Linked DNA regions of Homo sapiens. The protein of the gene in region 4 purifies or fractionates together with the protein of the main gene of each other region. This does not show direct contact. Each region holds a gene or a part of one and is shown on either strand. Other genes may lie near its edges.

Evidence for each region.
Region 1: the proteins of CAPRIN1 (region 4) and DNAJC21 fractionate together in Homo sapiens (co-fractionation; one large-scale study listed by BioGRID). This does not show direct contact.
Region 2: the proteins of CAPRIN1 (region 4) and PRRC2A purify together in Homo sapiens (affinity purification with mass spectrometry; one large-scale study listed by BioGRID and IntAct). This does not show direct contact.
Region 3: the proteins of CAPRIN1 (region 4) and RAB3GAP2 fractionate together in Homo sapiens (co-fractionation; one large-scale study listed by BioGRID). This does not show direct contact.
Region 5: the proteins of CAPRIN1 (region 4) and NBEAL2 purify together in Homo sapiens (tandem affinity purification; one large-scale study listed by IntAct). This does not show direct contact.
Region 6: the proteins of CAPRIN1 (region 4) and PPP6R3 fractionate together in Homo sapiens (co-fractionation; one large-scale study listed by BioGRID). This does not show direct contact.
Region 7: the proteins of CAPRIN1 (region 4) and IARS1 purify together in Homo sapiens (affinity purification with mass spectrometry; one large-scale study listed by BioGRID and IntAct). This does not show direct contact.

The regions. Positions count from the first base shown.
Region 1 is NC_000005.10:34,928,361-34,932,558, forward strand, and holds the start of DNAJC21 (dnaJ homolog subfamily C member 21), read left to right. Parts: upstream 1-1,459; coding exon 1,460-1,556; exon of another isoform or gene 1,557-2,001; intron 2,002-4,198. UniProt on the Homo sapiens protein: May act as a co-chaperone for HSP70. May play a role in ribosomal RNA (rRNA) biogenesis, possibly in the maturation of the 60S subunit. Binds the precursor 45S rRNA.
Region 2 is NC_000006.12:31,627,215-31,630,714, forward strand, and holds part of PRRC2A (protein PRRC2A), read left to right. Parts: intron 1-550; coding exon 551-1,025; intron 1,026-1,929; coding exon 1,930-2,120; intron 2,121-2,333; coding exon 2,334-2,631; intron 2,632-3,376; coding exon 3,377-3,500. UniProt on the Homo sapiens protein: May play a role in the regulation of pre-mRNA splicing.
Region 3 is NC_000001.11:220,262,454-220,265,953, reverse strand, and holds part of RAB3GAP2 (rab3 GTPase-activating protein non-catalytic subunit), read left to right. Parts: intron 1-3,500. UniProt on the Homo sapiens protein: Regulatory subunit of the Rab3 GTPase-activating (Rab3GAP) complex composed of RAB3GAP1 and RAB3GAP2, which has GTPase-activating protein (GAP) activity towards various Rab3 subfamily members (RAB3A, RAB3B, RAB3C and RAB3D), RAB5A and RAB43, and guanine nucleotide exchange factor (GEF) activity towards RAB18.
Region 4 is NC_000011.10:34,058,231-34,061,730, forward strand, and holds part of CAPRIN1 (caprin-1), read left to right. Parts: intron 1-2,247; exon of another isoform or gene 2,248-2,961; intron 2,962-3,500. UniProt on the Homo sapiens protein: mRNA-binding protein that acts as a regulator of mRNAs transport, translation and/or stability, and which is involved in neurogenesis, synaptic plasticity in neurons and cell proliferation and migration in multiple cell types.
Region 5 is NC_000003.12:47,006,934-47,010,201, forward strand, and holds the end of NBEAL2 (neurobeachin-like protein 2), read left to right. Parts: intron 1-132; coding exon 133-222; intron 223-307; coding exon 308-417; intron 418-591; coding exon 592-764; intron 765-882; coding exon 883-977; intron 978-1,136; coding exon 1,137-1,253; intron 1,254-1,349; coding exon 1,350-1,508; intron 1,509-1,586; coding exon 1,587-1,735; intron 1,736-2,055; coding exon 2,056-2,191; intron 2,192-2,285; coding exon 2,286-2,387; 3' UTR 2,388-2,768; downstream 2,769-3,268. UniProt on the Homo sapiens protein: Probably involved in thrombopoiesis. Plays a role in the development or secretion of alpha-granules, that contain several growth factors important for platelet biogenesis.
Region 6 is NC_000011.10:68,568,752-68,572,251, forward strand, and holds part of PPP6R3 (serine/threonine-protein phosphatase 6 regulatory subunit 3), read left to right. Parts: intron 1-996; coding exon 997-1,146; intron 1,147-2,288; coding exon 2,289-2,353; intron 2,354-3,500.
Region 7 is NC_000009.12:92,287,198-92,290,697, forward strand, and holds part of IARS1 (isoleucine--tRNA ligase, cytoplasmic), read right to left. Parts: intron 2,230-3,500; 5' UTR 2,223-2,229; coding exon 2,104-2,222; intron 1,086-2,103; coding exon 929-1,085; intron 777-928; coding exon of another isoform or gene 714-776; coding exon 594-713; intron 1-593. UniProt on the Homo sapiens protein: Catalyzes the specific attachment of an amino acid to its cognate tRNA in a 2 step reaction: the amino acid (AA) is first activated by ATP to form AA-AMP and then transferred to the acceptor end of the tRNA.

The DNA.
Region 1 (4,198 bases), on a different chromosome or scaffold from region 4:
ACCAATTTACCAACTAACTGAGACTGTGTAGAATCTTCCTCTGGAAAAAAGGGAAGTGTATGAATTCTGAGTAGTGAGTTGGTTGGTCAGTGGCGTGTGAAGTAACCTGATGAAGCTTAGCGTGGGTTTTTTATTTTACTGGGGGCAGCATATTGGGGAAGAGAAGGATAACCTTACTAAACCGCTTGGGTACGCCAACCCTGTGCAATAGATATTAGCAACATAGCTAACCATACATGGTTAGTAAATACAACCCACACCTAACTGATGCATGTAAACATTCCACATTACAGTGAAATATATTGGTGTATTAATGCATTTTAATAATTATGGTATTATTTTGATACCTTTCAAAGTGTTTGGAATAATTGTGCAGATAGTCAGATCAACCAAAACCTACCAGTTAAATACTATCCTTTAACTGCTTTCTTAACCTAAACCAATCTTGGAAAGGTAGGATTAGAGGCCAGAAAGTTAGGATTAAAGTGTGTTGGATGGATAGATCAGCACAATTTCATCCATGTTGGTGGTAAGGCTTTTCATTAAGTGTGTTGATGCTTCCCTTTTAAATTGTTTCCGCTTAAATAATCTAACTGTCCTTTCTCAAGCATATTGGTCAAGATGATCAATACCAGATATCTTAAGTGGCAGCTGAAGAGAATTAAAGAGATTAAAAAAAAAACCTGATATTCAGTCCAACCGAATTCTGCTACTGTATTAGCTGAGGAGGCTTGAGCCAACCACTTGACCACTTGGAGTCTGAATCGCCTTATCTATAAAAACGGGGATCCATTGAGAAATTATAATCAGATATTTTCCAGAATCCTCTCCCATCCCAGCTCCTATCTCCCCCTTCAGCCCTCAGGTCGGCTGCCACTCACACTGACCGCCATCTGTGCCCCTCACAATGACACCAGCGTGGCCCTGCCTCCCTTCCGCGCGGCCCCGCCTCTCGCCCCGCCGAGGCCCCGCCTCTCACACCAAGGTCCCGCCTTCCTCCTGTTCTTCCCGGCCAAGGCCTACCTTCCTCCCACGCGGCCCGCCTCTTTCCCCGCCAAGCTCCCGCCTTTCTCCTGCGCGGCCCGCCTCTCTCCTCGCCAAGGCCCCGCCTTCCTTCCTCGGGGCCTCGCCTCTCACCCCGCCGAGGCCCCACCCCCTCCCGCGCGGCCCTTTCCGGCACAGAGCCCACCCCTAGCCCATGCGAAGCGGCGGCCGCCGGCACCGCCCCCGCCGCGCTCCCGCTTGCCGCAGCCTGCGTCGTCTGCCGCCACCGCGCGCCTTCACTGACCTACACCACCGCCGCCGCCGCCGCCGCCGCCGGGCTCGCTGGCTGGCCCGGTGCGGGCGGCGGACTCCCGCCGGAGAGGACTGCCAGCGCCGCCGCCGCCGCCGCTTCGGCCCGGGCCCGGGCCCCGACCCCGTCCCGGGCCCCAGCGCCGGCCGCCCGCCCGGTCGGGCGATGAAGTGTCACTATGAGGCGCTGGGGGTGCGGCGCGACGCCAGCGAGGAGGAGCTCAAGAAGGCCTATCGGAAGCTGGCCCTGAAATGGCACCCGGGTAAGTACCTGTCCCGCAGCCCCCGCGGCCACTCGGAGAAGCCCGGCCCTCCCCGACCTTCCCTTCCCCCGGGCGGACTCCGCGGAGCCAGCAGAGAGGGACCTGGCGGCCTAGGAGCTCCTTGCCCCGCCCGGCCAGTGCCCGGAGCCGCCCTGCCCGTCTCGGTGGGCGAAGCGCTCTGCCCTGGCGCACCCCGGCTCACACCCCATCTCCTCATACCCGCGACCCCGGCCCCGCATCGCCACTGTAGGGGGAAAACTGCAGTCCAACAACCTCACTTGCTCCCGCTACCGGGTCGCAGACACCACGAGGGAGCAGTCGGGAACTCGGAACTCAGACCTGCCCCAGGCTTGCTTTTCCCTGCGTCCCTTGCAGCGCAGCCTCTCGGTGTTTTTCCTCCGCTGCCCTCCACCTCGTCCGGGAATCCCAGATACTTCAACCTGATGTATGGCTCTTTTCGTTTCTTAGTTAAGAAGTTAAGACACGGGAGCTAGTAAAATATCTTTTCAATAGGGATGCGCTTTTTTCGCTGTTTTTTTTTTCTTTTAATAAGCTGTTTAAGCAGACCTTGTACTTCACTTTGGACATGATTCTGCCGGGGAAGGTTTTAATCAGGCGGCTTCCCCAGTAAAGTTTGTATGTTTACTTAGAAGTATCCTTCCTTTGGATGTTTCATTGGTCTGTAATCCAGGCCTGTGTGACTTTTATGAAGTAATCTGATCTTCCAGGCTGGGAAACTAAGAGAGTAGTTGACTTTCAGCTTTTTGAGGTTCATATGAAGAGGCTTTCATATTAGCATTCATCAGTAAACACGGTTACAGAGTATCCAATATATGCAAGTCACTGCACTCTACTAAGTAGATTTGGAAATGCTGAGACAGGGGTCTTAGAGTCTTGTTAGGAAAACAACTTTCTGCCTTACACAAATGAAAAGTTAAATACAACTGCCAGAAAAAAATCGCAACATACATAATTGGTGGTTAGATTAATGGAACAACTAATATATGCTCCAGGAATTCAGGGAGGGAGTTACCATTTTGTATTGAGTCTTCCCCTTCTCAGAGGAGTTTGGACTGGATCGTAGAGGAATGCAATTTGGAAAAGTGAACTCAACAGTATGGAGGATAGCATGGTGGAGGACAAAAGATGTTCCGGGGGACAGTTTGACTGAAGGTGGTGTGTATTGCAGGTCTGAAAAATAGGGATTATGAGAGGAGTGGAAGGAAAGGTCAGGGACCCAAAGTCAAAAGGGAATGGCTATGGTGATGGAGTGAGAGATAGAGGTGTGGGTCTGTTACTTAAAGTTATGCTTACCAACAGAGGCGTGAAAAAATGTGATTATAAATATATTAGAAGAGCAGAAGTAAATGAACTGATGTTCATCATAGCAGTAAGTCAGAAGATACAGCCAAAATTAATAAATGTAAAAATAGTGTAGAAGTATATTCTTAGAGTTTGGGTTAGTGTAGAAGCATATTCTTAGGAGTTTGGGTTGTTACTGTTAGAAATCAAGTTAGGAATTAGAAGGAAGTTCGGAATTCCTTGACTTTCTAGGTGGGAAAGGGTAAATGAAGTAGCGAATGCTGTGACCAAAAGCGTATGTAATTTTCTGAAGAGTGATTTTAAATCAGATTGTATTTCTTGAGTACAAGAGTAGTTTGAAATCAGATTGTATTTCTTGTAATCTTGAATATTAGCCCAAGGACTGTGAAATTTGCTTCGCTAAATAAGGGAGAGTTGTGGCTGGTTTTATTAAGCTGCCATGGGAGAGTACTATGAAGGCAACTTAGTGGATTGAAGAGGGCTGGAGACAGAAGTTAGGGAGAGTCCGCAGTGGACAGACAGGTAAGGGCCCAAGCCAGGCTTGGGGTCAGCGGGAGGGGGAAAGCGCAAGGGGAGGAGATGTTGGGAAGGAAAAATGACCAGATTTGGTGATTAATTAGAAATCAGTGCTAGGAAGAAGCATGCAAATATGACTAAAGTATCAGTTAACTCCTTTGAAACCAAACCTGTTAGGAACTGAATGCAAATATCTTCTCTAAATATCATCATAATTTATGGCATCAGTGTGATGGTATCTGAGAATGGGCAGCAGGAAGCCCTGAAGAGCCATGTTCTAGGGCGGCAAAACTATTTGTAGATAAGACATTGCTGTCATGTTTTCTTGTAACTTCTTAGAAGGGAAGTATTGAGCTGTAGCTTAAAGAACTTTAGTGTGCTCCGGCCAGGTGCGGTGACTCACACCTGTAATCCCAGCACTTTGAGGGGCTGAGGTGGGCGGATCACCTGAGGTCAGGAGATGGAGACCATCCTGGCCAACATGGTGAAACCCTGTCTCTACTAAAAACACAAAAATTAGCTGGGCGTGGTGGCGCACGCCTGTGGTCCCAGCCACTTGGGAGGCTGAGGCAGGAGAATCGCTTGAACCCAGGAGGCAGAGGTTGCAGTGAGCCAAGATCGCGCCACTGCACTCCAGCCTGGTGACAGAGCGAGACTCCATCTCAAAAAAAAAAAAAAAAACGAACTTTAGTGTTCTCCATAGTCAATTCAAAATGCTTTACGTTCTGAATATATTAGTTGTCTATTGCTGTGTAACAAATTACCAATACCTCAGGGCTTAAGACAACAAACAACAAAAACAG
Region 2 (3,500 bases), on a different chromosome or scaffold from region 4:
AGGGATTGAGAGGGTCAGCTGTGGGAAATTGGTGTCAGCTGAGTAATTGAAGCGGTTGTGATATAGAGGAAGGGGGGTGCTAAAAATGGGCTGTGTGAAGTGCCAGGCTGCAGAACATCCTGGGAAGCTTTTAAATATCTTTGGTAATAGGGGAGTCTGGGTAAGAAGTGAGAAACTGGGATGCTAATGAGGAAAGAAGAAAAAGGAGCCCTGGGTGTTTGGGTTTCGGAAGGAGAGAGGGAACAGAAAAATAAAAAGACTAGGGTGGCTAGATAGCTGGATCTGTTAGTATGCATCAGTAGTCCAAGCTACTCAGCAGGCTGAAGCAGAAGGATCACTTGAGCCCAAGTTCAAGACCAGCCTGGGCAACATAGCAAGACGTGGTCTCAAAGAAGACCAGGATAATGAGTTTGTCACCACCCAGAGAGATCAACCCCAAAGCCTGGGTCGTTGCATCCTGCAAGTAGCGACAGTTGATTTGTTGTAAAAGAGATGATAGAAAGCATAGTAACTGATTCCCCTGGCCCTGCTGGGTCTTGCCAATTGACAGGATCGTGGGGGTCCTCCCTGCAAGCCCCCAGCACCTGAAGATGAGGATGAGGCATGGCGGCAGCGACGAAAGCAGTCGTCATCTGAGATTTCCCTGGCAGTGGAGCGGGCCCGGCGACGGCGAGAAGAAGAGGAGCGGCGCATGCAAGAAGAGCGCCGGGCAGCCTGTGCTGAGAAGCTCAAGCGACTCGATGAAAAGTTTGGGGCACCTGACAAGCGGCTCAAAGCAGAGCCTGCTGCCCCACCTGCTGCCCCTTCTACCCCAGCTCCACCACCTGCAGTCCCTAAAGAACTCCCTGCACCTCCAGCTCCACCTCCAGCATCAGCCCCAACACCAGAGACAGAACCTGAAGAGCCAGCACAGGCCCCTCCTGCCCAATCTACTCCTACTCCAGGTGTGGCTGCGGCTCCCACTCTGGTGAGTGGTGGTGGCAGTACCAGTAGCACCAGCAGTGGCAGCTTCGAAGCCAGCCCAGGTATGGAGATGGGGATAGGTACTACCAGATGTCAGATCACTGCTTCAAGGTGCTTAAAGGTGCAGGGTGGTAAGGCTGGGGATAAATGAAGTAGAAGGCAGTTGTTTTGGTTTATTGGACTATCAGTGATAGTGTTCTATCATTTGTATATCTGAAGGAGGGAAGGTTTTGTCTGGAATCTTAGGTTGTAGTCTAATACCATTTCTTGGCAGAGTACTGTAGCTCACGCCTATAATCCCAACACTTAGGGAGGCTTGGGGTGGAGGATCGCTTGAGCCTAGGGAGTTTGAGACCAGCCTGGGCAACAAAGCAAGACCCTGTCGGCCAGGCATGGTGGCTCACACTTGTAATCCCAGCACTCTGGGAGGCCGAGGCGGGCAGAACATGAGGTCAGGAGTTCAAGATCAGCCTGGCCAACATAGTGAAACCCGTCTCTACTAAAAATACAAAAATTAGCCAAGTGTGGTGGCATGTGCTTGTAGTCCCAGCTGCTTGGGAGGCTGAGGTAGTAGAATCGCTTTAACCCGGGAGGCAGAGATTTCTGTGAGCCAAGACCATGCCATTGCACTCCAGCCTGGGTGACAGAGCAAGACTCTGTCTCAAAAAAAAATCCTGTCTCACAAGAAATACATAAATAAAAATGAAAACTATTTCCTATAGGCCAAGACTGAAGAAAGTACTGTTGTTCTAATGGTTTCATAGAAAGTTAATGCCACCACCATAGGCTCATGAGAGGCCATGAAGTGCTTTAATGGGTCTTAAATGGGAGGGGCTTCAATAGAATAGATGTTGAATAGAATATTTTAGTCTTAAGGGAGCTAGAGATGAGACGTGAGATTCCTGGGGTGTTCATGGAGTGTCTATTGTTGGACTAGATCACTCTGTTGTGTTTTTTCCGATGCAGTGGAACCACAACTGCCCTCAAAAGAGGGTCCTGAACCACCAGAAGAGGTTCCTCCTCCTACCACACCCCCAGTTCCAAAGGTGGAACCCAAGGGTGATGGGATTGGTCCCACCCGCCAGCCCCCTAGTCAGGGCTTGGGCTACCCCAAATATCAGAAGTCGTTGCCTCCTCGTTTCCAGCGGCAGCAGCAGGTGAAATCAAGTTGTTTACCCTCTAAGGGCTGCTTTTCTTCCTGGCTTCGGTCCCTAATTCTCTTCATAAGTTACCTTCTGGGTCCCTTTGCTTCTTTGTCCAGTTGTCTCCATTGTCACGCCAATTTCCCCTAGTCCAAGTTTTTTCTTTGCTGATTCCTTTGTCCATGTGTGCTTTGAGCCTCTCTCATCTTGTCTTTCCTCCTTTCCTAGGAGCAGCTCCTGAAGCAGCAGCAGCAGCACCAGTGGCAGCAGCATCAACAGGGCTCTGCCCCTCCTACCCCAGTGCCCCCATCACCACCACAGCCTGTGACCCTGGGGGCTGTGCCAGCTCCACAGGCTCCACCCCCGCCCCCCAAGGCCCTGTACCCAGGTGCTCTGGGCCGGCCCCCACCCATGCCCCCAATGAACTTTGATCCCCGATGGATGATGATTCCTCCTTATGTGGACCCCCGGCTCCTCCAGGGTCGTCCCCCTCTAGACTTCTACCCTCCTGGTGTGCATCCCTCTGGTAAGGGGGCATGGGAGGAGTGAGAAACAGGAAAGTCCCCTCAGTCTTAGGCATTGGATATTAGGGTCTTACTGTGACTCTGGTACGATAGGTTTTGCCCATCATAGTGATGAGGGAAGGGCATATGCTTGGCACTGCTGAGATAGCTCTGTTGCAAAAATGGGCTTAGTTAAGAAATAAGCAGTGGTTGGCCAGGCATTGTGGCTCACGCCTGTAATCCCAGCACTTAGGGAGGCCGAGGTGGGCAGATCAACTGAGTTCAGGAGTTCGAGACCACCATGGCTAACGTGGTAAAACCCCATTTCTACTAAAAATACAAAAAAGTAGCCGGCGTGGTGGCGCTCGCCTGTAGTCCCAGCTACTCGGGAGACTGAGGCAGGAGAAACGCTTGAACCCAGGAGGTGGAGGTTGTAGTGAGCCGAGATTGTGCCATCGCACTCCAGCTTAGGCAACGAGCGAAACTCCGTCTCAAAAATGAATGAATGAATAGCACAACTCCATCTCAAAAATGAATGAATGAATGAAAGAAGCAGTGGTCCTTCATTTGCCAGGATTTATTTGGGGTGGGTTGATTCTCTTGTAGGGAATCTGAGTGGATAACCTTGTTATATAAGAGCAGGCAAGGCCCGGACCTACTGGGAACAAGAGATGGAAGAGCTGACTTGACCGCGAGGGGAGATGCTTTTTGGGCTGGAGGGCTTGTGACATGAATAGGATTATTTTTCTTTTTCTTTGGTTTCTTCAGGCCTAGTTCCCCGAGAGCGTTCAGACAGTGGGGGCTCAAGCTCAGAGCCATTTGACCGTCATGCACCTGCTATGTTACGGGAACGGGGCACTCCACCGGTGGATCCAAAGTTGGCCTGGGTAGG
Region 3 (3,500 bases), on a different chromosome or scaffold from region 4:
TTTTTTGTTTGTTTTGTTTTTGTTTTTTAGAGACAGGGCCTCACTCTGTCACCCAGGCCAGAGTGCAGTGGCATGATCATAGCTCACTGCAGCCTTAAACTCCTGGATTCAAGGGATCCTCCCACCTCAGTCTCCTGTGTTGCTAGGACTACAAGTATGCAGCACCATGCCCAGATAATTTTTTTGGTTTTTGTTGAGATAGGGTCTTGCTGTGTTGCCCAAGCAGGTCTTGAACTCCTGGGCTTAAGTGATCCTCCCACCTGGACTCTCAAAGTGCTAGAATTATAGGCATGAGCCACTCTCCCTGGTTTATTACTTTGAAGTTGCAGGGATGGGTGGAGTATAGGTCCCCACTTTATGGGTCCCCATTTAACCTATAGTGACATAATTTCCAATGCCTAGACCAGAACTTTCTGAAATTTACAGTTGGGTTGGGCAAAAATATAAATAAATATATAAATAAATAAATACATGAATAGAGAGGGAGAGCCAGAATAGTTGGAGATAATTTGGGTATTATAATATTGTGGATTTCTTGATTTACCTAATAGTAAAATAATTTCTTATTGACATACTAAAAATGTGGAATAGTTTTCCTTCTTGCCTCTTTTACCAACCAGAATATAAAGCATGTAGGGAATTATGTTGAAATAATCAATTCATGTTTTTAAGCAATCTCTGAGAAAAATGTGCTTTATTTAGGATAACCTAAAATCATAGAATCACTTTGCATAATGGGCTATCACAAATGATATAAAATACTCTATTTTTTATATGTAGTAAAATATTTTCTCTAGTTTGAGATCATACTAGGAGAGAAAATAATCTGAAAATAGAACATTTATAGAGATTTCAGAAAATATATAGAGTTACTGGGTTTCTTTAAAATTGGAAGAGGATCATACAGATAAAATTTTACCAGTGAGGAAATTGAGATTTGAGTGTTCTTCAGTTTCTTCATTCAGGTAGTATTTATTGAGCATCTACTATGTTCTAAGCACAAAATGAGTTTAAAGATAAATAAAATAAGTCCCTCAAGCAATTTTCAGCTAATAAAAGAAGACACGTATGTGAAACGATTGTTAGAGGTGTTATGCTATGATATGGCACATGATGGGAGAGAATGAAGGAGTGTTGGTCTAGTCTATGCAGGAAACCCAGAAAGTCTTCATATAGGAGGTGATATTTACACATTAATAGTTTAAAGATGTCCATCAGATGGAGAGAAAATAGACAACAGATGTGAAACAGTATGGGATTCAGAAAGCTGCAAATAGTAAATTGTGGTGGGAGGGTGGGATGTGTTCAGAGGTGAAATTGAAGAGGTTGGTGAAGGAGTTTAGATTTTATTCAGTAGCAGGGTCTTTAGATTGAAGTAAGAGTACCTTGGGATCATGGAAATTTATAAAAGGTTGCTTGGGAACAGATGATTTTAAGTAAATCATTTTCCACATGTACCTGTGAAAGTGCCTACTTTCTCACCCTGCCTTCTCCCACTTTATCTCTGACACGTTTGTAGTCTTATTATAGTAAGTTGCTTCAAGGTGTAAAAAAAACCTCCCCTTTAATCAAAGTGTTGTAAATTCCTCCATTCGTTTTATTATTAGTTTTCCAAATTTTACTTTTTGTTTAATTATCAAGATTTATGATATATTTATGTTGTTTTCCTCACTTATTTACATAAAATAATTGTAATAACTCAAGCAAGAAGAAAAATGTTAATACTTAAGAGTCTTATCACAGGAAAATGTTTTCTTAATTCATATCCTTTTTTGCAGAGAGAGTTTTGTACTGATAATAATAAAAATCTGTGTTTATTAGAATAGCATTCTGTGGAGGAAGTAGAATAGAAATAAGTATTCAAGGAGAATAAAGGACTTGTAAAAACTGTTGAGAAGGTCAGCATTTTTTTTTAATGGATGTCGGTGGGTATCATTTCCCTATAGTGTTTAGAATCCACTAAGTTTTAAAAAGTAATAATAGTTTTATGTTTAAATGTACATGTTTATAGTATAACAGAAATTACATATTTTTTGCAAGAGATACATACTAAAAAATTCTTTTGGGGCATATATGAACAAAAAATTTGAAGGTCATTCTCCTGTAAGACTCAGTGATTCCCAGTCTTGTCTTTTCTTTTTTTTGTTGGCATAATAGCGTACATAAGAAAAATGAGATATGGACCCCAAACAGCTAAAACAATTTTGGAAAAGAAGAAACAAGTTAGAAGATTCACACTTTCTGATTTCAAAGCATATTGCAAAGCTGTAATAACCCAAACTGTATGATACTGGCATAAAGACAAACAAACCAATGGAATGGAATAGATAGCTGATAAGTAAACCCTCACATACATGGTCAAGATGATCTTCAGCAAGTGTGCCAAGAGCATTCTTTGGGGGAAAAGACAGCTTCTTGAATATATGATGTTAGAGGAAATGGCTATCCATATGCAAAAGAATGAAATTGAATCCTTATCTTATACCATATACAAAAATTAAATAGATTAAAGACCTAAATGCAGCACCTAACACTGTAAAACTTTAGAATAAAACATAGGAGAAAAGCTTCATGACATTGGACTTGCATGCTTTTGGATATGACACCAAAAGCATAGGCAGCAGAAGCAAAAGTGGACAAATGGGGCTACACTAAGCTTAAAAACTTTGTGCATCAAAGGACACAATCAACAGTGTGAAAAGGCAGTTTTCAAAATGGGAGAAAATATTTGCAAATCATGTATCTGATATGGGATTAATATCCAGAATATATAAAGAATTCCTGCAACTCAATAACAACAACAAAAAATCAACCCTATTTAAAATGAGCAAAGGACTTAAGTAGACATTTCTTCAAGGATGATATACAGATGACCAAAAAGAACATGAAAAGATGCTTAACATCACTAATCATCAGAGTGATGCAAACCAAAGCATAATGAAATGTTACACCTATTAGAAATGGCTACTATAAAAAAAAAAAAGTATCAGGATATGGTGAGGATGTGGAGAATTATAAACTTTTGTGCATTGTTGGTGGGATGATAAGATGGTACAGCCATTAAGGAAAAAATAAGAGTTCCTCAAAAAATTTTAAAAAAATTATATGATCCAGCAATATCACTTCAAGGTGTATATACAGCAGAATTGAAAGCAGGGTCTTGAAGAGATGTTTGCACACCCATGTTCATAGACAGTTCACAGTAGCCAAGAGGTGGAAACAACCCAAATGCCCATCGATGGATGAATGGATAAACAAAATGTGGTATTATACACACAATGGAATACTGTTTAGCCATTAAAATCAAAGAAATGTCACATGCTATAACATGAATGAACCTTGTTAAATTATGCTAAGTGAAATATTCCAGTCACAAAAAGACAACTACTATATGATTCCACTTACATGAGGAAGCTAAAGTAGTCATTTATAGAAACAAAAAATAGAATGGCGGTTACCAGAGGCTGAGGAAAGGGAGAACGGGAATTGTTTAATGATAC
Region 4 (3,500 bases):
GGTTCAAGTGATTCTCATGCCTCAGCCTCCCGAGTAGCTGGGATTACAGGTGCATGCCACCACGCCCAGCTAATTTTTGTATTTTTAGTAGAGACGGGGTTTTGCCATGTTGACCAGGCTGGTCTCAAACTCCTGACCTCAAGTGATCTGCACGCCTTGGCCTCCCAAAGTGCTGGGATTACAGGCGTGAGCCACCACACCCGGCCTCTTAAATAATGTTTTATGGGAGTAATTAGAATTTGTAATGTTCCACGGCCTAAGTGTAGTTTTCATGTTTAATTATGTAGAATCAAGTAAAGCCTTTTGCTTCAAATCCTTAGAGTTTTTCTGTTTTAAAAAACTGAATGCAAAAGAAAAATGCTTTCCATTTCCTTATTATTAGACTTTTATTAATGTCTCATTGTTGAACTTTGTGTTTGCATTGTCCGGGTAATGGGGTTCTGAGAATATCGGTAAGGTAAAATCCCAGTGTGTCAGGTATCATTGGGACATCCATATTGTAATGAAATAAACTTTTATAAAGTTAAAACTCTGAAGTTTTTCTTTATGTTTAGCTTCCTATGTACATTTGTCAGACTCTACTCCAGCTTGGTATGTTGTAGACCGGAAAAATCTGGAAAAAGCATTACCAGTAGAGAGAAATAAGAAGTGTGACAACCTTTTCATCCAAATTACTGTATTCCAAGCTTCTGGGTATTTTTTGGTAGTTGGTTCCTTTTTCTGGGGGAAATGAATGGTGTGTGTGTATACAGTATAGAAGAGTGAGAGGAGTAGCAGAAGAGAAATTCATCCAAAGTTGGAACTGTAAATTGCTTTGTTTTAGCTCATTTATTTCTTTCTTTCACTAGCTCTACTACAGTGCTTTTGTTAGATAGACTATGAGTACAAAAACGTGGGTGAAAGATAATTTACTGAGTAGAGTTCAAAATTCAAACTTCCTGAGGAAAGGGGAGGGTGTGCTTCTTGACCATGCTCAGCTAAAGTAGTTTGTTTCCTTTAACTTCCCCTGTTACCTATTGTCTGTACACTTCTTGACATTGTTTTTTTTTTTTTTTTGAGACGGAGTCTTGCTGTGTCGCCCAGGCTGGAGTGCAATGGTGTGGTCTTGGCTCACTGCAACCTCCGCCTCCTGGGTTCAAGTGATTCTCTTGCCTCAGCCTCCTGAGTAGCTGGGACTACAGGTGCATGCCACCACACCTGGCTAATTTTTTGTATTTTTAGTAGAGACGGGGTTTCGCCATGTTGGCCATGCTGGTCTTGAACTCCTGACCTTGTGATCTGCCTGCCTCGGCGTCCAAAACTTCTTGACATTTTTATATTGCCTTGTGTTGTTAACCTTACATGTTTTTCTAAATTGGTAATAAGCTCTTTGTGGGCAGAGACTATTAACATTACTTTGCTGCGCTTTCTCACACATGGTATATGCTGAATAAGTACTTGGTAGTTTGGCCAAATCATTACATAGAAATATCTGTAGCTTCATTAACAACCCTGTTAAAATGGATTAATCCATGGGGTTAGGGAGGAAATGCTTTTTGCACAGAACTATTTACTTGCAGTGTTTTTTTATTGAAATTGATTTTTTTCCTGAAGGGTTTTTTACTTTTTACAGGTGTGTAGAGTTGATGAGTAGGCAAGTAGAAGAATACTTTTTTTTTTTTTTTTTTTTTAAGCTGGGTAGCAGGCTGGGCATGGTGGCTCACGCCTGTAATCTCAGCACTTTGGGAGGCTGAGGCAGGTGGATCACCTGAGGTCAGGAGTTCGAGACCAGCCTGGCCAACCTGTGAAACCCCGCCTCTATTAAAAATATGAAAAATTAGCTGGGCATGGTGGCATGCAGCTGTAGTTCCAGCTACTTGGGAGGCCGAGACAGGAGAATTGCTTGAACCTGGGAGGCAGACGTTGCAGTGAGCCGAGATCGCGCCACTGTTCTTTAGCCTGGGCAACAGAGTGATACTCCATCTCAAAAAAAAAAAAAAAAAAAAAAAGCTGGGTAGCATTAGCAAGATATGTGAATGGTCTTAAGAGAACACAGATAATTCTTATTATTAGAACCATTGTACATTATTGGAAATTTCATTGCATTCTCCTCAATACTGTTCTAAAAATATTTTAATTTTAATTTTTTAGAGACAGGGTCTCACTATCACCCAGGCTGGAGTTCAGCAGGGCAATCATAGCTCATTCCAACCTTGAACTCTTAGCCTTAAGCGATCCTCTTGTCTCAGCCTCCCAAAGTGTTGGGATTACAGGGTTGACCCACTGTGCCTGGCCCCCCTCAATACTGTTATCTAAACATAGAAATAACTGAAATATATTTTAGTCATTAAAAAACCCTTTGGGCTTACACTTTGAGTTACATTGAACTTCTTTTTACATTGTGGACAGGAAAGATAGTAAGCAAAAGTTTCCTCAATTTTTAAAAGGACGACGGTAGAAAGAACACATTGCAATCTATAGATGATCCATGGCAGCTATCTTCAAATGCTGAAAGCTTGCTCATGTAGCAGGAGTCTGTGCTGTTTTAGAAAACGAAAAAGTATTAAAACAGTGATGGTGGGGATGTAATTTTTTTACATTTAACTCCCAAGGAATGTATTAATATAAATAAGTTGTACAGAATTATGCTAAGGAATAGCTTGGTTAAAGCAACTAATATTTTGAAAGATGCCCTTTAAGATTATTTATGGTAATTTGCTTTTCAAATCTAGAAGCTTTAGACTTTTTAAGAATATAGTTCAAAGTAGGTGATGCTGGAACTTGTTAACATTTCTTTTTCCTACTAGAGTCAGCTGCTTCAATTCACTCAGACTTACCTGCATAATTATAACCTTGGACAAGGAATAAAGGTTTTTACAGGATTGGCTTTTATCTTTTTTAAAAAATTGGACAAACGGCTTGTGAAACTAAACTCCTGGATACTTAACCTGCTTGAAAAATTATCTTACAATGGAACCTTAGGTAACATCCTTTTTTTTTTTTTTTTTTTTTTTGAGATGGAGTTTTGCTTTTGTTGCCCAGGCTGGAGTACAATGGCGCAATCTCAGCTCACTGCAACCTCTGCCTCCCAGGTTCAAGTGATTCTCCTGCCTAAGCCTCCCAAGTAGCTGGTATTATAGGCAACCACCACCGCACCCGGCTAATTTTCTGTATTTTTAGTAGAGACCAGGTTTCATCATGTTGCCCAGGCTGGTCTCAAACTCCTGACCTCAGGAGATTCGTCCACTTTGGCCTCCCAAAGTGTTGAGATTACAGGCATGAGCCACTGCACCTGGCCTAGGTTAGCATTCTTATGCCATTCTTAGCGTTCAGAAATCCAGCATTCCTGACAGGTGTTCATTCAGCCTCTGCTTTAACCAGTCTTCCAGGGCCTGGTAGAGTGCTCGTTTCTCAATGAAAATTTGTTTCATTGGTGTGCCACTCTTTAAGTTCTTGGTGGTAGAAGTATATCCTTACCGGCCGGGCACAATGGCTCATGCCTGTAATCCTAACACTTTTGG
Region 5 (3,268 bases), on a different chromosome or scaffold from region 4:
AACCTCTGCATCTGTGACACCTACTCTATGACCCCTGGGGACTGACAGTAAAGGAAGGGATGATGCTTCAGGGAGCAGATAGTGTAATCTGATAGTACTCAGGCATAGCTAGGCCTGCCCTTGCCCCTGCAGGTTGTCAGTGATGGTGTACCCCTGGTGCTAGCCCTGGTCCCCCACCGGCAGCCCCACTCCTTCATCACCCAGGGTTCCCCAGACCTGTTGGTAAGTGCATTGTGCAGAGCCCCAGCTCAGCTCCACTCCCCCTTGCCTCTGCCAGAAACCCACCTCTGCCCCCTCCTGCCTGCAGGTGACTGTGAGTGCCAGTGGGCTGCTGGGCACCCACAGCTGGTTGCCCTATGACCGCAACATAAGCAACTACTTCAGCTTCAGCAAAGACCCCACCATGGGCAGCCACAAGTAGGACAGAGGGCTGTGGGTGGGGTGGGCTACAAATGCCCTGCACCCGGAATTATTCCCCTCCCTAATCAGAATGTAGGCCAGCTGCAGGGGAAAGGTCTGGCCAGGCTCCCTGAGGGCCTGGGTCTCTTCCATGTGGCCTGGCCTCACTTGCTATCCCCCTCACTGGGTCAGGACGCAGCGACTGCTGAGTGGCCCGTGGGTGCCAGGCAGTGGTGTGAGTGGACAAGCACTGGCAGTGGCCCCGGATGGAAAGCTGCTATTCAGCGGTGGCCACTGGGATGGCAGCCTGCGGGTGACTGCACTACCCCGTGGCAAGCTGTTGAGCCAGCTCAGCTGCCACCTTGGTATGAACAGCCTTGGAGCTGGGGAGAATGAGGCACACAGGTATGGGGCCGGGTTCTGAGGCTGGCCAGGGCGGATGTGACTCCTCCGTTCTGCCTGTACCCTCCCCTTCCCATGCAGATGTAGTAACCTGCCTTGCACTGGACACCTGTGGCATCTACCTCATCTCAGGCTCCCGGGACACCACGTGCATGGTGTGGCGGCTCCTGCATCAGGTGTGCCTCGTGGGCAGCTCTGTGGGGCCCCCGTAGCCCAGACCTGCAGCCCATCCGTCCCTCAGTGGCCTTCCAGTCCTGTCCTCCTCTAGTCTTGGACAAGGCCTTCATTTCCTGAGCCTCAGGGGACAGTCCTAAGCCAACCCTGGTCCTCCACAGGGTGGTCTGTCAGTAGGCCTGGCACCAAAGCCTGTGCAGGTCCTGTATGGGCATGGGGCTGCAGTGAGCTGTGTGGCCATCAGCACTGAACTTGACATGGCTGTGTCTGGATCTGAGGTGTGTGTATGCATGTGCCCTGGGGAGGGTGAGTTTCCTGGGCAATCCCCCTGGAGCCCAGACTCCTGCCCAGGACCCTAAGTTGCCTTCCTGCAGGATGGAACTGTGATCATACACACTGTACGCCGCGGACAGTTTGTAGCGGCACTACGGCCTCTGGGTGCCACATTCCCTGGACCTATTTTCCACCTGGCATTGGGGTCCGAAGGCCAGATTGTGGTACAGAGCTCAGCGTGGGAACGTCCTGGGGCCCAGGTATGGGGAAGGGGTGCCCAGCAAAGATGGAGGGGCAGTTGGGATCCTGTCCTTGCTGACACTCCCTGCTTCCTCCAGGTCACCTACTCCTTGCACCTGTATTCAGTCAATGGGAAGTTGCGGGCTTCACTGCCCCTGGCAGAGCAGCCTACAGCCCTGACGGTGACAGAGGACTTTGTGTTGCTGGGCACCGCCCAGTGCGCCCTGCACATCCTCCAACTAAACACGTAAGCCCCCCATTTATGGGTTCATGGCCCCTGAAGGTGGTGGTCATTGGTGTAGGATAAAGGCCCTAGGAACCCACACACCATACATGTTTGTGGGCACATATTTCAAGGTTTGTTACCTGTCCCTTCATCTTCCCATGGGGAGGTCTTGCCCTGGGCCTCCGCTTAGCCACAGTTGTGGGAGATTTCTTTGTGTATAAGAATTTCAATTTAACCATCCTTAAAATGAGGACAGAGAGGGTATATGGGATAAGGGATATCTGCTGGTCGCAAAGCCCCCTTGCAGTCGCAAGTTGGTGTATATCCCCTCTCCCTTCCAGACTGCTCCCGGCCGCGCCTCCCTTGCCCATGAAGGTGGCCATCCGCAGCGTGGCCGTGACCAAGGAGCGCAGCCACGTGCTGGTGGGCCTGGAGGATGGCAAGCTCATCGTGGTGGTCGCGGGGCAGCCCTCTGAGGTGAGGATGGGGCGGGGGTGGGGAGGCCCCTCGAACGGGGCGGGGCGTGGCGCGGCGATCCCAGCTGATCCTACTCAACCCTTACGCCCACCAGGTGCGCAGCAGCCAGTTCGCGCGGAAGCTGTGGCGGTCCTCGCGGCGCATCTCCCAGGTGTCCTCGGGAGAGACGGAATACAACCCTACTGAGGCGCGCTGAACCTGGCCAGTCCGGCTGCTCGGGCCCCGCCCCCGGCAGGCCTGGCCCGGGAGGCCCCGCCCAGAAGTCGGCGGGAACACCCCGGGGTGGGCAGCCCAGGGGGGTGAGCGGGGCCCACCCTGCCCAGCTCAGGGATTGGCGGGCGATGTTACCCCCTCAGGGATTGGCGGGCGGAAGTCCCGCCCCTCGCCGGCTGAGGGGCCGCCCTGAGGGCCAGCACTGGCGTCTGCGGCCGCAGCAGCACTTTTTGCACAGTCTGGGGCGGGGTTCCCCGGCTTCCAAGTCGCTGTTTCGTCAAAGCACGAGGGCCGCCTGTGGCCTTAATTCCTAACGGCGGCCCCGGTTCTCCCTTCTCGGCAATAAACCAGGCCTAGTTTTGTAGCTGCTCCGTCTCCGAGTGTGCGTTCGCGCGCAGCGTCTCGGCCTGCCATGGCCACCGTCCCAGGGTCGCCGTCTGAGTCTGGCCTGGCTCGCGTTCCCCTGGCCCGTGACCCCCTCTGGGCCCACTCGCCCCCCCTCCGCGTGGCCGTCGCTGAACTGGGGCCTCAGTTTACCCGGCAGTGTAGCCCCTGCCCCACATCTCGCCCCGGCTTGTGGTTTCCCCACGATCTCTTCATGGGGTCGCCTTCGCACGCCATTCGTCCACAACCGCAACCCGGCCAGGCGCCCCGCAGGCGCGTTTGCATTCCTTCGCCGGGCAGGGGCGACAACACCCGAGGCCGCGCCCCTCCAGCTCGGCCCTGCCACCTCATTGTCTTGCCTACTTCTTGGGCCGCCCTGTGGCGCCGCTGTGGTCTCGGGGTTGGGGGTGGGGGGCCAGAACCACCCCAGAGAGTCCACGTTGTCTTCCCGGAGGGCTCGGTCCTGCCCTGCTGAGTGGA
Region 6 (3,500 bases), about 35 Mb from region 4:
ATCAAAATGAAATTCTTACAATTTTTTTTTTTTTTTGAGATGGAGTCTGGCTCAGTCGCCCAGGCTGGAGTGCAGTGATCTTGGCTCACTGCAAGCTCCGCCTCCTGGGTTCACGCCATTCTCCTGCCTCAGCCTCCTGAGTAGCTGGGGCCACAGGCGCCCGCCACCACACCCAGCGATTTTTTTGTATTTTTAGTAGAGACGGGGTTTCACCGTGTTAGGATGGTCTTGATCTCCTGACCTCGTGATCCGCCCGCCTCGGCCTCCCAGAGTGCAGAGATTACAGGCATGAGCCACCACGCCTGGCCTCTTATAAATTTTTTTGAAAATTATAGAAAATTTACCACGCTAACTATTTGTGTTAGTTGCTTTGAAGAGAAAAAAGATACTCCCTTTCTCTTGGAGAAACGTACTCTTGTCTTTGTATGTTTGTTGTTGGTTTTTTACTAGATTCCATACCAGTTCTGGCATGTCAGATAAGCAGATAGCACGCCATTTAGGCTCTAAAGCAATACTTCACATCCCCATTTAGTCCTCGTTATTTATGAGGGATACCTTCCAAGACTCCTTTGGATGCCTGAAACCACAGCTATCGAACCCTATATATACTATGTGTTTTTCCTATACATACCTGTGACAAAGTTTAATTTATAAATTAAGCACAGGAAGAGATTAATAATAACTAATAATAAAGTAGAACAATTATAAATCTATACTGTAATGAATGTTATGTGAATGTCATCTCTTGGATTAGCATGTCTTACTGTATTATACTCACCTATTTTCAGATCATGGTTGACTGTGGGTAACTGAAACCACAGAAAATGAAACTGTGGTTATGCAAGTACTAATGTGAACTCAGGTTCCTTTTAATTGGTCCTTTTGGACTGAGAGCACATCATTTTTACTTTATTAAATCACTGTTCTGTAAATGTATTTAAGTATTGGCTTAAACATTGAGGTAACCGAATAAAACATGGTTTTTCTTTTTTGTAGAACATGTTCTTCAAGTATACATGGAATAACTTTTTGCATACACAAGTGGAAATTTGTATTGCACTGATTCTTGCAAGTCCTTTTGAAAACACAGAAAATGCCACAATTACCGATCAAGACTCCACTGGTGATAATTTGTTATTAAAACATGTAAGCTTATTTGGTCTCGTTTTTCTCCCACTCTCTCCTGGTTATAGCAGTTTTCCACTTGACTGTGATGTGAATTGAGGTTTAAAGGGCTTGAGGTTAGATTTCAGAGTCTAAATATTTGACAATCATGTGTTCGTTTCACTTTTAACATATAAATCATTATATAAATCAAGTACTGGACAAATAACTATTAAATGAACAGTCTTGTAAGAAAAAAGCTAAGTGGCCTCCTTATTTGGTAAAATTAATAGGTTTGAAGATATATAAATTCTTTGATGATTTGAAGAATCATAGAAATTTAAATACTATGGAAAACATTTGCACTATTATTTGGCTGACCAGAGTGTAGTTTCTTTGCTGAATACGTGACTGAAAGTCAGGAGAACTGAGTTCTTTGTGATGTTGAGAGTCTTCCTGGGGTCTCTTTTTCTCTTCTGTCAAATATGAGATAATTTTACTAAGTCAGTCTTCAGATTTTTTCTTGCTTGGTAGTTCTATGGTACTTTTAAAATTTCTAGCCCACACTTGGTTTACTCGCAAACCTAAAATGTAGAAAAGGCTAGCTTGGAACAGCCAAGTTGATGGGAAAGACAAATGACACCTGAGAAGAACTAGCCCTGCACATTCCAGTATTGCAGCCTACAGCAGTTGTCACTGACTTGCAGACTTTGGGCAAAACCCACCTGTTTTTAATATTAATGCAGTAATGTTAGTTCATCTGGAAGTAAGACGTGCTCACATTTTAAAAGTACAAGCATTACTTTGGATTCTAAGTTAAATTTTTGCCAAGGCATAGTTTTCTTTATTCCATTTTAATTTAGCTCAGGTTTTATATTTCTGTTCTGAATTTTCACAGCTAATAAAACCTGGCTTTCCTTTATAGTTAACTATAGGTAGTTAACTGCACTACCTATAATACTGAGTTTCCTGTAGATGTTCTGTGGAGGGTGTGGATCCTGATTTGAATCTCTGTAGTGTTGTGGGTGTCTGCAGTAGATTGATGATCACATTGCATTTGGCTTAGTAACATTTAGCTTGCTAGATTATGCATACTACTATTCTCTTTAACCTAGAGTTCTGTTTCACTTTAAAGTTTTGATGCTTTGAAGTATTAACTGGAATATTCTTTTTTTTTTTTTCAGCTTTTCCAAAAATGTCAATTAATAGAACGAATACTTGAAGCCTGGGAAATGAATGAGAAGAAACAGTAAGTAAATTGTTTTTTTGAAAGGAATTCAGTTTGGTTGGTAATATGAGGAAAATAATACCTCCTTGCCCTAGTCAGAAAAAAATGGAAATAATTACATGATACTGGCCATTTTACAATTTAAACTTTTCCCCAGATTATTTCATTGTAACAGTTGTTTTTATAATACTAATAATTTCTTGTTAGGTCCTCTTGTTTTTGGGGCAAAACAAGTGAGTTCGGAGTGTTCCCCACCTCTGTGCTGCCTTTGAAACTTCCTGGTCCTTTTTGAATGGCTACTGTTCTAAGAGTTATAAGGTTAAAGTTAAGTCCTTGATGATGTGACTTAGTGTATTTGTCCTGGTCACCTTATGCTCAGAACAGAAGGTATCACGTACATATTTTCATTGTAGAGAAGAGTTGCTTTGTACAGGGACCTAGAGGAAAAAAATTGCTCAGTGTTTTCTTTTTAGAAAATGTTTGTTAGCTGATTGGCAAGGTTATGTGAAGTATTAGTTGATACATGTAAGTAGCTTTGTTACACAAAACGTTTTCTTACAGGTGTTGTCTGTAACAGCATTCCTCTCTAGTGCCCTGGAAGCCTTTATGTCACCCCGTAGATTCTGAAGCATGGTGGCATAAGGGCGTGTTTGGGAAACACTCTGAAGGCATGCTTCTGTGTTTGTTTTTAAGACAGGTTTATTGAGATATAATTCTCATATGGTAAAGCTCATTTTAGGTGTACATTCCTAGGAATTCTGACTGATGCCTGAAGTCACCATCACCACAATCAAGACATTTCTGTCACCCCCAAAATTTCTCTCATGGTCCTTTGTAGTTGATCATTTCCCAGCATTCTTGTTATGTGTCTCTGTGTCTCCAGGAAAGCTAGATGACTCTTGGGAGTCAGCCTTACTTTGTGAGGTTTGATTTTTTTTTTTTAAATCGTTTAATAAGCACTGCTACTAGGGTTTTGATTTGGCTTCATGTGGGAAATTGGCATTTTGTTTGTTTGTTTGTGGCAAGGGGCTAGTATTGGTAGACCTCAGATACATTCTTCCAAATGGAGCTCTTTGGAGATGCTGTTTGTGGCCCAGTTGACATCTCTGGTTATATGTCTGACTCCGTCTTGGCTTCTCTGTGTCCTTCCCAACCTCCAGTCTTCTTG
Region 7 (3,500 bases), on a different chromosome or scaffold from region 4:
AGACATTATAGAAAATAGCTGTTCTGCAATCTTCAAAAGTGAGAAGGCCATGAAATACAAAGGACTAAATAAATGTTCCATACTTAAGAAGACTAAAAAGACATGACAACCAAATGCAATATGTGATTGGTCAGAAATAAAAATTAATGGGGCAACTGCTTTTGAAAATTCTATTAATATTATGGTTACCGAAGATGTTAGCAGCTGGGAAAGATGGATGAAGGATATAGGGGAACCCATCATACTACTTTTTCAATTGTTTAATAAGTCAAATTATTTCAAAATGAAAAGTTAAAAAAATTGAAAAAAGTATTTGAGAAAAAAAGAAAAGGCCTATATATCATGTTATACTTATTAGAATTTTTCCCTATTGGTGATCATGCAAGAAAGTTAGACCAATTAAGCACACAGAAGTCAGAAGAGAGATGGTTCAGTTTAAGCTAACCGTTTAAGTAATAGGGTTGAAGGTGGAAGCTAACACTTTTTCTACAAAAAATAAATTAATAAAAAAAGCACAAGGGACCATAAACCATTTCAATGCCCATTTAGTAACTACATTTGCTGTTCATTCTACTGAAAAAAACCCAACATACCTTCCACTCAGCAGAATATCTCATCACAATTGCTCGGCACTGATTGTTATACTCTGTAATCCCCATTTTGGCCACATCCTCTGGTCCTCTGATTCCCAGTGTCTTATCAATTTCATATTCCTGAAAATTTGTGATAAGACTGTTACCACGCTGCCCTATGAAAACAACTGCAACTATGCAACTCTAGAAAACAAAACAAATCAAACTACAAATATTATAGAAATGAACTAGAAGGTCTGACAGTCAACGTTCATCATACTTGAACATATTATATGACAAAATCTAATGCTTATAAAAAAAATCAGAAAATTATAAAGCTGGATACTCAAACATACCACAGGTAAGCCATGGCAATCCCATCCAAATCTTCTGTCAACATGAAACCCACTCTGGTGAGCATATCTTGTAACTATATCTTTAATTGTACCCGCAAGTATATGTCCATAGTGAGGCAGTCCAGTTGCAAAAGGAGGACCATCATAGAAGGTAAATCTAACAGGTAATAAAAATATATCAAGCCATTTAAAAACAGCCAAAATTTAAGGCATTTTTCTATAGATAGCTCTTGTCATAGTGGAGTCTTCAAGGAGAAAAGCAGCAAGATCAGGAAACCGACAGACATAATTGATTTGATATTTACTGGTGGTCCTGCCTTCAGAAAGGCTACAATTGTGGTAGAGCTACAGAGACCTCCATTTGATTATCCATTTTTCATTTATTAGTTCCATGACATAAGGCAAATTATTTATCCTGATCTTGAGTTATCTCATCAGTAAAATAGGGCAATAAACCCCTATCTCATAGTTTTTGACCAGAGGAGACATATAATGAAAACACTGATTAAAGGACTAGTCTTTTAGGTGAATGAGGACTAAAGGCAGGTAGTACTATAGTAGCCTTCTATGGGGTACTTAGGTATAAGTGCCTAAACGAGGGTGGTGATGAAAATAAAGGTGGAAAGAGGGTGACACGGAGGATGACACATAAATTTTACTCAGATGACCTTTTAAAGAAACAAAATTTACCCCAATAATTGAGAACTCATTCATTCAATGTATATCTACTACTGAGTACCCACTACATAGGGAGCTGGGGGATTCTGGGAATAGAAAGATTAATAAAGAGTATCTGCTTTAGGCCGCGCGTGATGGCTCACACTTGTAATCCCAGCACTTTGAGAGGCCGAGGTGGGTGGATCACTTGAGGTCAGGAGTCCGAGACCAGCCTGGGCAACATGGTGAAACCCCGTCTCTACTAAAACACAAGAATTAGCTGGTGTGATGGCGGGCACCTGTAATCCCAGCTACTCGGGAGGCTGAGGCAGGAGAATCACTTGCATCCGGGAGGCAGAGGTAGCAGTGAGCAGAGATTGCACCACTGCCCTCCAGCCTGGATGACAGTGCGAGACTCCATCTCAAAAAAAAAAAAAAAAAAAAAGTATCTGCTTTAATGGAATTCAGTCTAAGAAATGACTATTCTTAAGGGAACTTAACCTAAAAAATTCACATACTTTGGTTTATGTTTTGATTGCTTTAAGCATTCCTGAAAACAATTAAATTCAGTCCAAAACTCCAAGATTTTCTCTTCTTCAGCAGGAAAATTTATGTTTTCTGGAACTTGTTGAAGCATTTTGTTGCTGCAAAAGAAATCAAATTTATTACTGTCAAAAGAGAAATCTAGGAATAACAGAGTACCATATTATTAACATGGGTGTACATGACACTATCCATACTTTTAAAAAATTACAGCTTTATTGATGTACAATTTACATAGTGTAATGTAAAAAGTGTACAATTCAGTGGCTTTTTAGTATATTTACAAGGTAGTATAACTAGTAATACCTAATTTCAAAACGTTTTCAACCTCCCCTCCCCACCAAAACACCCCAAAACCATTAGCAGTCACTCCCCATTCTTTCTTCTCCATAGCCAGTGGCAACGATTTATCTTCTTTCTGTCCCTGCAGATTTACCTATTCTGGACATTTCATATAAATGGGAAAATTTATAGGAATCATCTATATGTGGCCTATTGCATCTGGTTTCCTTTCTCTAGCATGTTTTCAAGGCTCATCCATGATGTAATATGTATTCATACTTCATTACTTTTGATAGCTGAATAGTATTCCATTTCATGAATATGCCACATTTTGTTTATCCATTCATCATTTCTTGGATACCTGTATTGTTTCCACTTTTTGGTTATTACGAATAACGCTGCTATGAACATTCACATACAAAATTTTGTGTGGATCTATGTTTTCATTTCTCTTGGGTTTGTAGCTAGAAGTAGAATTTCTGGGTCACATGATAATTCTGTATTTAACTTTTTGAGAAAATGCCAAAATTTTTCCAAAGTGACTGTACTATTTTACATTCCCTCAGCAGTGAATGAGGATTCTAATTTCTTCAGATCTTACCCAACACATCTTATTGTCCATCTTTGAATTACAGTCATTCTAGGAGATGTTAAGTAGTATCTTGTGGTTTTGATTTGCATTTCCCTAAGGACTAATGATGCTGAGCATCTTTCCACATGCTTATTGGCCATTTGCGTATCCACGTTGGATAGATATTTATCCTTTGCCTATTTTCTAATTGGGCTCTTTTTGTGGTTGGGTTTTAAGGGTTATGTATACATCCTGGATACAAATCCTTTATCAGATATATGATTTATAAAAAATTTCTCCTGTTCTGTGGGCCGTCTTTTTATTTTCTTGATGGCATTTTTTGAAGCACAAAGATTTTTCATTTTAATGATGCCCAATTTGTCAATTTTTGGTTTTGCTGCTTGAGCTTTTGGTGTCATCAATAAACCATTACCTAAACAAGGTTATAGATTTTTCGCTTACATTTAGGCCACAAATAATTTTATTTTCGTATATGGTGTGAGGGAGGGGTACATGGCT